Linked DNA regions of Homo sapiens. The protein of the gene in region 3 interacts with the protein of the main gene of each other region in a pairwise test. Each region holds a gene or a part of one and is shown on either strand. Other genes may lie near its edges.

Region 1 (3,756 bases), on a different chromosome or scaffold from region 3:
GCTTACTAACTTTGGGGAAAGGAATATTAAGTCATCATACCAAAAGTTTTTTTTATTATAGGATTTAATAGATGAGGGTCATGCAGCAACTCAGCTCGTCAATCAACTCCATGATGTGGTTGTAGAAAATAACTTATCTGATAAACAGAAGTCTATTATCACAGAAAAACTTGCCGTAAGTAGGTACTTTGCACATGTCAATGGAACATTTAACTACCTGAAGGATGCTAATTTCTTAAATTTTTCTCGTAGGAAGTTGACAAATGCCTAGCAGATGGTGCTGATGAACATTTGCAACTCATCAGCCTTTGTGCAACTGTGATGCAGCAGTTATCTCAGAATTGTTAACGTGAATATATCTGGATGGGGGGTTTTGTAAATAATGAAGTTGTAATAAAAATAAAATGACCAAAAGCACCTTTAAAGTGAATATACAATTTATTTAACATTCAAACTTCATTAAGACATGTGCAATATGGCAATTTTACTGGGGATTAAACCCTACCTAGGATTGCTTGCTGGGGCTTAGCAACAGGGTCCAGTTCACACTTAGCACTAATTAAATACTTTATTGAATAAATACAATACCAAACAAAATGCATTCAAATGCTTTCTAAAAAAATTTTAAAGGCCTTTCTACTCAGGCTAATGACAAACACAATAAAGGCAGATATGCTAGTTTAACATAATTGGCTGATTTTATACAGCACTTATATCTTTTAGTCCACAAGTATATTATTAAATGATAGAGAACATCTAATACAACCATTTCTACAGAACTAGGAAATAAATTTCTAAGAAAGAAAGATTTTACAGACCCCATCTTTTATACCCACCCCAACAGTCTAACTCTAAAGAGGATAAAGCCAATGACTTTCCTCACAAGAGCTCACGACTAACGTCGCTTTGCTATCAAAATCTGTATTTCTGATCCGTTATGAGCATTGAGACAAGATTCAAATATTCCCAAAGAAAGAAGCACAATGCACGTTGTGATCGCCTATTCAGCAACAGCGAGCACTGCATCCAAAACTCTCATCCCAGGAATTAAATAAGGTCAGCCACATTCATGGGCATCTCCTCCACTGTAGTATTGTAGAAAGTCTCAATGTCACGAAGAATCCTCTTGTCTTCTTCAGTAACAAAGTTTATAGCCACACCTTTCCTCCCAAATCGACCCCCTCTGCCAATTCTGTGTAAGAAAAAGAATCAGAACGTTACTTCTCACATAATGTATAAACTACTGAACATGACGATCCACTTGTTAACCACCAGCTGCTGTTTACTTATCAAGGTTATAGTTCGTGCTTCTAACTGGAGCACTAGCTGCTAATGCATATCTAGAGAAAAAAATCTTCCTTTGCAGTTAGTGCCAAAAGGATTCAAGGCTTGTCTGGCTGCAAAATGAGATTTTTATCAGGCATCTTGAGCATTATTATAAAGCAGATGACAGTATCGTGTTTGGGGTAGTGAAATTAAAGCCCATACCAAAGTGGGCCAGCCAAGAGCAGGTGTCAGCCTGGGACAGATGTGAACACCAGGAATAAAAGAGCAGTTATGTAATCCATTTCGACGCACTTCTGGAACTGTAAACTGTAAACAAATGCTGCAAAGGTTAACTATTTTCTAAAACTTACTTTTTTCCAGTGGGAAAACAAATATTTGGTATGGTAACCCAAACTTATCACTGCTTTTTTGCTCAGTTTCACACGTTGTAACTCAAATTACTCTAAACGTGTTTAACTGCCAAACAGCTACCTGCATGTTAGAAACCAGACAATACAAACCACCTAATAAGAAAGGTTCCCTAATAGAAATACTAATACAAAAAAATGCCTTAGCTGGAGCAACTTAAAAATCAAATAATCATGACAAAAGAAAAACAAATATAAATACCGACTCGCTCTTTATTCAAACAGTGTGCTGTTTCGCTTATGATTCCACGTCCTAAATTACGTCAACGCCGTTTCTGAGTGCCATCTCGTCACCAACTGCTGCTATCGACTCCTGTATTTTTTAAAAAGTCTTTTTTTACATCATATAACAAAGTACAATTCAATTTATTTAGGGATAAAGCCACTATAACTAAACCAGGGTTCACTCAAATTGCTACCAGGCGACACCAAGAAAATCCCAACTATAGAAAAAATCACCAAGAAAAACACATGGACACAAGAACATCACTAAAAGCTCAAGCATAAGGTAAGACCAACAATTGTGGAAAAAAACCCTATGTCCACAATCTGGGCAATGTTTACAAGTTTTCCCACTTTGTTCTCATCAACCTTCCCTAGTACAAATTTAATTACATCATCTTACTGAACACTACTGACTTTACTGAATCTATTCCTTGATTTGATGTTACCTTTCATACAAATCACAGTAGAAAAACGTATGAATTTTTTTCAATACAGCCAAGATGCTGGCTTCTCACCTGTGAATATAGTTTTCACGATTGGTAGGTAGATCATAATTTATAACCAAAGACACTTGTTGCACATCAATCCCGCGAGCCTGAAACACAATGGCATGTTTTAAAAATTGATTCAAAAAAACTTGACACCTGTCATGTAGGCCACAAAATAGTAGCGAACTATACTAAGTGGTATAGCCCACTGTGGAGTGTGGTCTTTTACTCTTCCAAATAGCCCAAGTTGGCAAAGGTTACTTAAAAACCTGCCCCCCAAAAAGCTAACTTTTGGTAGATTTTTAAAAAGCATTAAGAGACTTACCAACAAGTCAGTAGTGATCAGAACACGACTTGACCCTGACCGGAATTCCCTCATGATAACATCTCTCTCCTTCTGGTCCATGTCACCATGCTGCAAATTAATAAACCTTAATTCAAGAATCACCAGTCAGGTCGGTATTTAATTTTAATCAACATGTATGAGACCAAGCGTCCCTGGCTGCTACAGGAGAATAGCAGACAGGTATAGTTAAGAAACAACTTTATTTTAAGCAGGGGGAACGACAACACAGCACTTAGCAGCTATATTGTAGTCTGAATCCTGCTTTAGTGGAAATCCAGACATTTTAGAACACCTCTTACCAGAGCAGAAACTGTGAAGTCTCTGGCATGCATCTTCTCAGTCAGCCAGTCCACCTTGCGCCTCGTATTGAGAAAAATAACAGCCTGTGTAATGGTCAGTGTCTCGTACAAGTCACAAAGTGTATCCAACTTCCATTCCTGTAATGTTTAGAAGTTAAAGTTAACAGTCATTTAGTTTTTCCAACTCTTCAGTTAAAAATTCATTCTGGGCCAGCCACAGTGCTAATGCCTGTAATCCCAGCCCTTTGGGATCCTAGCACTTAGAGCCCAGAGTTCCAACCAGACCAGGGTTTCAAGAAAGTGAAACTGTCTCTACCCAAAATACCAAAATTGGCCAGTCTTAGCCAGTCTCATAACCCAGTCTCAAAACGTAGAAATTATAAAAATTAACTTCATTCTGTTAGGTCTAATGAGATATTGCACCAAATCTTAAGACAAAGGACATTGGACATTAAGAAAGAGGTCCACCCCAGTCTTTACAATCTAGTGCTGTTACTTTTCTTCTTGTGTGTACTCTGCTAGCATTATTGCAAAAACCAAGACATGGTCCTAGTGTCTGCAATTTTAGCACAGTGCTTATACAAGAAGGTAAAATAATGTCTAACAATCAGACAGTTACCTCTCTCTCAACATTAATATAAAACTGTTTGATTCCTTCAAGGGTCAATTCTTCCTTTTTCACCAGAATTCGAATTGGATCTCTC
Region 2 (2,914 bases), on a different chromosome or scaffold from region 3:
CACTGCCGGCTGTGGCCCTCTGACTTTAACTCTCCTCCCATATAGAAGGTACTCAGTAAATGATCATCTCTAGGTTGGGGATGGCAAATAATCATCTCAACTGCCAATTCCAAGTGTCTTGAATACACTAAGGCACAATGCTGTAGATCAGTTGGCCACAAATGCAAAGGGCATGTAAATAGGTAATGGTGGTGCTAGTAGCAAATTGGTAGATAGTACATACTTGCCATTTCTATACTAGGAAGTCCTCTTAGTGGAGATGTTTTCATTTTCACTGGATAAAAGATAGAAGGAAGGAGATGATAGAGGAAAAGCAGGGTGATGGAAGACAAGCCAAACACTCTTGCATGGTAACCTTGTAAATATACCTGCTCTATGTGGGTGCTGCATGCTAGGAAAGTAGGGCTGGGGGCTTTTCTGCATGTTTATATGCCTCCAACTGAATTTGAGGAGAGTAGACCACCAGTATGCTTAAATATGTGATACTTGTTAATGTAATACACCATTCAGGAATAAACTGAGAGTTCTGAGGAACAATCTGGTCAGGTGAAGTTTATTTACAGTAGGTTAAGAAATTAATAAAAAGTCAGAAATCCTAAGTCAGTTGGAAAACCCAAGCTGTAATGTACCCAAACCTTCTGAGTTTTTCGCTGAGTTGCTTGCTTCTGATTTTCACCCAAGGCAGTTGTCACAAATTATTCAGATCATCAGGTTGTCTTTATTGGCCAGGAACACTGCCAGTGCTGCAGCAATCACCACCATCAGCACTGGGAGCCATCGCCCACATTGCCTCTGTAGGGGGACAGGGAGACAGAAGAAAGTGGCCATGAGTGGATTGGAAAAGATATAGGCAAAAATCTTTCTTCTTCCTACTCTAGCCCAGTGGAAAACGCTGGGTTGGTGGTGGAGAAAAAGCTTTTTACTCTGTCTCCCATTTTGTCACCTGTCTTGGGATAAAACCACTTAACCAATGTTCTCTGGCCCAGGGAGCCGTATCCATCAGGGACCAGATATATAAATACTGATATGAATAATGAAGGGTGGAAAATAACCCAGCAAAATTATATTCTTTCTTTGTATTCCCCAGTACTTTTGTGTCCTTCTGTTCTTGCCACCATGCTTATCATCGGCTAAAAGAACACCCTTTCATACTTTAGCTAAGAGTAAGTCTTTCCTTCTGGCATTGAGAGTTCTGTGAAAGTTGGGCTTTGATGGACGAGCCAGTGTTTTTTTCAATGGTTGCCATAATGTCAGTATAGTATAAACCAAGCACAGTGGGACAGGATGGCCAGTTGTTGGCGTGGGCTGATATATTTTATGTGCAAAACTTGGTTAAAGAAGGAATCGTCCCATCATCCAGGGCTTTATGGGAAGGAGAGACCCTCTTACTCTGGGAGGCAGCTGCTGGCTCTGGTTCAGCTCTTCTCGACAGTGCTGCAGCTTACGCAGGCAGGAGAGATACTCGTCACTGAGGTTGTCTAATTCTGAATGCAGTTCTCTGCACTGGGGAGAACATCACCAAAGTCATCACTGTCACTTCTGTCTAGGACAGAGCCCAGGCAGGGGAGACTGCCCTTTGTAAGTTTCACTCATTTGGAATTTTTACCACCATCTTCCCTTCCCAGCCATTCTCAGGGATTTGAGTTTGTCTTTTGACTGTCTTACATTGTCTGGAATGTGTTCATTTAAATGATTGACAGTAATGCATATTATAGTATTACATTTTATACATTTAAGTTCTTTTATATGACTTTACGTGCAAGTGCTTTGCAAATGAGAGACACCGAAAAATGAAGTTCTTATAGAACAAACGACCTAGAAGTGACCTTAGTACAAGTTTCTTTCCCAGGAGCTAGTTGCATATCAATACTTCTGGGGATGTGTATGTTTGTGAGTATGTACAAAGGAAGAGTTTTACTCTTTAAGAGACATATAAAGACTTAAGATACTCAATGTGGGACGACATATTGAGAAGTTAATATTTTTATTAAATGTGTTTGAGTTTTGGTCGACTTTCTAAAAGGTAATCATTTAATAAAACCTTGAATAGGAGTTGGTATAAATAAGGAAGGGAAAAGATTGACAAGTCAGCCCAAAAGCACAGACACTTTATGTAGGCAAATGAATGTCTGTGGTTATCCACTCACAACTTAAACTTTGAAATCCCTGCTTTTTGACTGCCTCCCAGGTTTCTCTGCTATTTCGCAAATGAGCCCTCACTATCTCAGGTCACCCTCTCACCTCCTTTTCCTTGGCCTGGAGCTGCAAAGTCTTCTTTTGCAGCTGGTCTCTGAGATCCCAGTCTTTCTCCTTCCCTGTACCCTCAGGCTCCACTTCGTTAGGGAAGGACTTTGGACTCCACACGGGCAAAGCCTGATCTAAAAAAGCAGCCAGATTCTTGGTGACAGTGAGGCCCACACCTCTGAGGAAGGGCCCTGAGGGTGAAACCACTAGGAGTGGGGAGAGGGGAGGGAACTTGGGAGGGCGTGCTCTTGGCTAGACTGATGGCATTCTCTGACATAAAGGTTAACTTCCAGTAGGCCCCTGCTAAGCTTGGACAGACAGCTGGAATCTGAGCTCCTTGAGGGCAAGATTGGGATCTTTTCTTTGTATCCCCAGTCTTATCTAGTGCTAGATAGTTTTAGTGAATACTTCTTAATTGAATTTCATTGGTTGTATGTCACATTCTTCCTAGTTTGTCAAATAAGTTTGGTAAATGCTTTAATACAATCCCTTTTCCCTGATGTCCTCATTTGAAAGTTGTGAAGATGGCAGTCATATCCTAAAATTTATCTTCATATGGTTAAAGATGGTTTTTTAGCCACCCTGCAGTCTTAGTCTTGGTGAAAAGAGCATGGACTAGGAGTCAGAAGTTTTGGATTGTTGTTATAGCTGTGTTGTTAGTTTGTGTCAC
Region 3 (3,756 bases):
CAGCTACTCGGGAGGCTGAGGCAGGAGAATGGCGTGAACCTTGGAGGCGGAGCTTGCAGTGAGCCGAGATCGCGCCACTGCACTACAGCCTGGGCGACAGAGCGAGACTCTGTCTCAAAAAAAAAGAATGTTCTTGAAGACTTTTTTTCTGTTGGCTGCTGTCTGTGAGTCTGTTATAATAAGTGCTTAGGAGTGTTTGCCAGTCTTCTCAAAATCATGAGCTCTGATTTTATAGGAATTCAGAATGTTTAACAAACACTAGGGTCATTTTATGACAGTTTGTATGAATGTTTATTTACAGTATGTGACACTGTGGTATATACTTTATGTAAATAACCTTTTAAAATCTCTTCACAAAAACCTAAATGGTTTTTCTTATCCCCTATTTTCAGAAGAGAAAAAACAGAAAGAGAAGTGAAATGATTAGCATATGGTCACACAGCTAAGTCAGGATTTAATTATAATTATATTAAAGTGAAGAGGATACTTTTATTTTTATATCTTAGTAAAGAATGTCATATTTTAGAGTTTTGTGGCTAAAAACTTTTTTAGGCCAGGCGCGGTGGCTCATGCTTGTAATCCCAACACTTTGGGAGGCCGAGGCGGGTTGATCATGATGTCAGGAGATCAAGACCATCCTAGCTAACACTGCGAAACCCCATCTCTACTAAAAATATTGAAAAAAAGCTGGGCGTGGTGGCATGTGCCTGTAGTCCCAGCTACTTGGGAGGCTGAGGCAGGAGAATCACCTGAACCCAGAAGGCGGAGGTTACAGTGAGCCAAGATCGCACCACTGCACTCCAGTCTGTGCGACAGAGCGAGACTCTGTCTCAAAAAAACAAAAACAACTTTTTAAAAAGTTGGAGTAGCGTAGAAAGGGTGAAAACATTTCTGAATTTGAAATGAATTCAAAGTTCTGGAATTGTGTTTTCCTGTTTTTGTTTAAATCAGTTCATTTCTCCTTCATATTCCTTTATATACCACTGAAAGATTATTCTCTTATTTAATTGACTAAATTGTTTATTGCCAGACTTTGGAGATGAAAAGCTTAAGGAAGTACAATATTATAAAATTACAAAGTAAATCTGAATAAAAGTTGTCAGTTGTTCTTTGCTAAGTGTATTTGATGCCAAAATATTGTTCTGAAAATTTCAGAGTTAGATAAAACTTTTTTCTTTATAATATCTAGGTTGGTTTTATCAAATTTTGATAATGCTGTCATCACATAGATGAAATGTAATTATGTAGAACTTTGTGGAAAGCCATTTGGGTTTAGCAGAAGAGGCTATTCTTTGTTTTATCTTAGTGTAATGGAGATACTGTTTTTTCTTAGTGTAATGGAGAGAGGGCTAAAGAAGAAGCAATTACACATTTTGAAAAGCTCTTTGAAGTTCTGGAAGAGAGGAAATCATCTGTTTTGAAAGCAATTGACTCCTCTAAGAAACTAAGATTAGACAAATTTCAGACTCAAATGGAAGAGTACCAGGGACTTCTAGAGAACAATGGACTTGTGGGATATGCTCAAGAAGTGCTAAAGGAGACAGATCAGTCTTGCTTTGTGCAGACAGCAAAGCAGCTCCACCTCAGGTATTCTCTTTTACTTCTAACTTTAGAACCTATTGAGCAATGTTATTAAATGCTGCTGTGTATTCTCACTTTAGCTCTGATTGGTCCATAATGCTGTGTTAATGTGAGGTACATCTTGCCTCATTCTTAACTTTAATTTTGAGTGAAGTGTGGGTTTTATTTTGTTAATCATGTTGCAGATATTTAGTCTGATTTGACTTCTTAAAGAAACATTTTTATATAAAATATCTGTCTGCAGAATACAGAAAGCCACAGAATCTTTGAAGAGCTTTAGACCTGCAGCTCAGACTTCTTTTGAAGACTATGTTGTTAATACCTCTAAACAAACAGAACTTCTTGGAGAATTATCCTTTTTCTCTAGTGGTAAGTCTTAATGAAGGCAAAAACCTCATTCTTTTTGTCTGAATTTGTATTGTGTGGAAGAAAACACAAGTTCTCTTAAATTTGACATTATAAAGCAGCATCTCACTTGCCCAGGACTATCACAGCATCCTGAAATCATATCCTATTTATGTTTTTAAAACTATATTTTTATGCACAAAAACTATGTTCCATTAGTTTGTGTGTTTTTAAACATTGCATAAATAGCATTATGTTGTATGTATTTTTGTAAATTGCTTTTTAGAAAATTAACATAAATACTTGTAAATATATGAAATTTTGGTGTAAAGCAATATTTTAACTGTTTACAGTATTTCATAAGTAAATCATTTTCCTACTAAGAGACTTTTTTTTTCCATTTTTTTCCTCTTTTATGAGCAACGCTGTGTCGCACATCCTTGTCAGAGTTTTTTGGGCAAGTGTATGTGAGTTTCTTGGACAGAAGCCTAGGAATGGAATCTGCAGGCTGTTTACATTGCTGTATTAGTTTGCTTGAGCTGCAGTGACAAAAGTACCATAGACTGAGTGACTCAAAACAGATTCATTTTGTTACATTTCTGGAGCCTACAAGTCAGAGATCAAGGTGTTGGCAGGGTTGGTTTCTTCTGAACCTCTCTTCTTGGTTGATAAATGATAAATGGCTATCTTCTCCTTGTGTCTTCACATGGTCCTCTGTGTGTGTGTGAGAGAGATCTAATCTCCTCTTTTTATAAGGACACCAGTCATATTGGAGTAGGGCCCATTCTAATGACCTGATTTTAATTTAATTTCCTCTTTAAAGACCCTATTTTAAAATACAGTCACATTCTGAGGTACGTACTGGGGGTTAGGACTTCAACATGTGAATTTCCAGTGGCGAGGGGTGGGGTCTGGGGGACTGGGGAAGGATGCAATTCAGTCCATAACACTTGCTTACGTTTGTATTTTGCTACTCCCTAGCAGGGAGGTCTTCCTTGCCTTTTTTTCTTCTTCTCACCTCATTCCTCTCCCTAAGATTTCTCTTCTAGTGATGGTGAACACTACAAAGATATATTTATAGTATAATTACTTTATAGGTGCAGATTTGTAGATTTGTACATTAATACAAGGAAATTTGTCTTGTTAAAAGTTTAAAACTCTGAAGGATTACTGTGACCTCCTTTTCAAATCTATACCTGAATCTGATACTTACTTACTATGACCGTCTTATTTTTTCAAATAGATATTTGTCATCACTTAAAATGCTGATTGTATTTCATACACTATACTGTGTTTCCAAAATGTATGCTTGAATAGTATATATACAAATAGATATTTGCTTACTTGTGAGTCCTAGGTCCTCCCTCCCTGTGGATCCCAAAATGGTTGCTGGAAAGGTAAGGTTGAGGGTGGGTTATCCTGGGTTATACCACTGTATAGCAAGGAACCAATAAAACAGGTGGATGAGAATGGGATAGTAGTCACCTAGCTTCTGGCTGATGGATCTTCCCCTCATTTTTTGCTACATGCATTTTTTTTTTTTTAGTAAGCTATGTTTCAAAAAAAGAAAGAAAAAGAGTATGGGGTAGGCGACATACTATTTGTTAATCTGTAACTTTTTTTTTAAATTTTAAAATGTATTTTGAATAACTTTCCAGATCTCATTATGGCTGCATAACATTCAGTTGTATAAATGCAGCATACACAGAAATGCTTATACATTGGGGAATAAGGAGAGGAAAGAGACTTCTGCTTCTTATTCATGTCCTTCTCTGTGATTTGTCATAAATGTGTGTGTGTAGCTTTTATAGCGTATTGTTCTTAGCATAT

The links.
Region 1: the proteins of TRIM36 (region 3) and EIF4A2 interact in binary tests that used the Homo sapiens proteins (3 or more experiments, as listed by UniProt).
Region 2: the proteins of TRIM36 (region 3) and TRAF3IP3 interact in binary tests that used the Homo sapiens proteins (3 or more experiments, as listed by UniProt).

What each region holds. Positions count from the first base shown.
Region 1 is NC_000003.12:186,786,561-186,790,316, reverse strand, and holds the end of EIF4A2 (eukaryotic initiation factor 4A-II), read right to left. Parts: coding exon 3,672-3,756; intron 3,646-3,671; exon of another isoform or gene 3,465-3,645; intron 3,191-3,464; coding exon 3,053-3,190; intron 3,019-3,052; exon of another isoform or gene 2,884-3,018; intron 2,823-2,883; coding exon 2,733-2,822; intron 2,705-2,732; exon of another isoform or gene 2,568-2,704; intron 2,515-2,567; coding exon 2,435-2,514; intron 1,193-2,434; coding exon 1,048-1,192; 3' UTR 420-1,047; downstream 1-419. Other genes in the region: RFC4 (replication factor C subunit 4), read left to right, coding at 62-175, 253-348. UniProt on the Homo sapiens protein: ATP-dependent RNA helicase which is a subunit of the eIF4F complex involved in cap recognition and is required for mRNA binding to ribosome.
Region 2 is NC_000001.11:209,779,934-209,782,847, reverse strand, and holds the end of TRAF3IP3 (TRAF3-interacting JNK-activating modulator), read right to left. Parts: exon of another isoform or gene 2,379-2,914; coding exon 2,242-2,378; exon of another isoform or gene 1,504-2,241; coding exon 1,390-1,503; exon of another isoform or gene 793-1,389; coding exon 700-792; 3' UTR 538-699; downstream 1-537. Other genes in the region: UPF0739 protein C1orf74, read left to right, coding at 1-23. UniProt on the Homo sapiens protein: Adapter protein that plays essential roles in both innate and adaptive immunity. Plays a crucial role in the regulation of thymocyte development.
Region 3 is NC_000005.10:115,135,194-115,138,949, reverse strand, and holds part of TRIM36 (E3 ubiquitin-protein ligase TRIM36), read left to right. Parts: intron 1-1,333; coding exon 1,334-1,587; intron 1,588-1,825; coding exon 1,826-1,950; intron 1,951-3,756. UniProt on the Homo sapiens protein: E3 ubiquitin-protein ligase which mediates ubiquitination and subsequent proteasomal degradation of target proteins. Involved in chromosome segregation and cell cycle regulation. May play a role in the acrosome reaction and fertilization.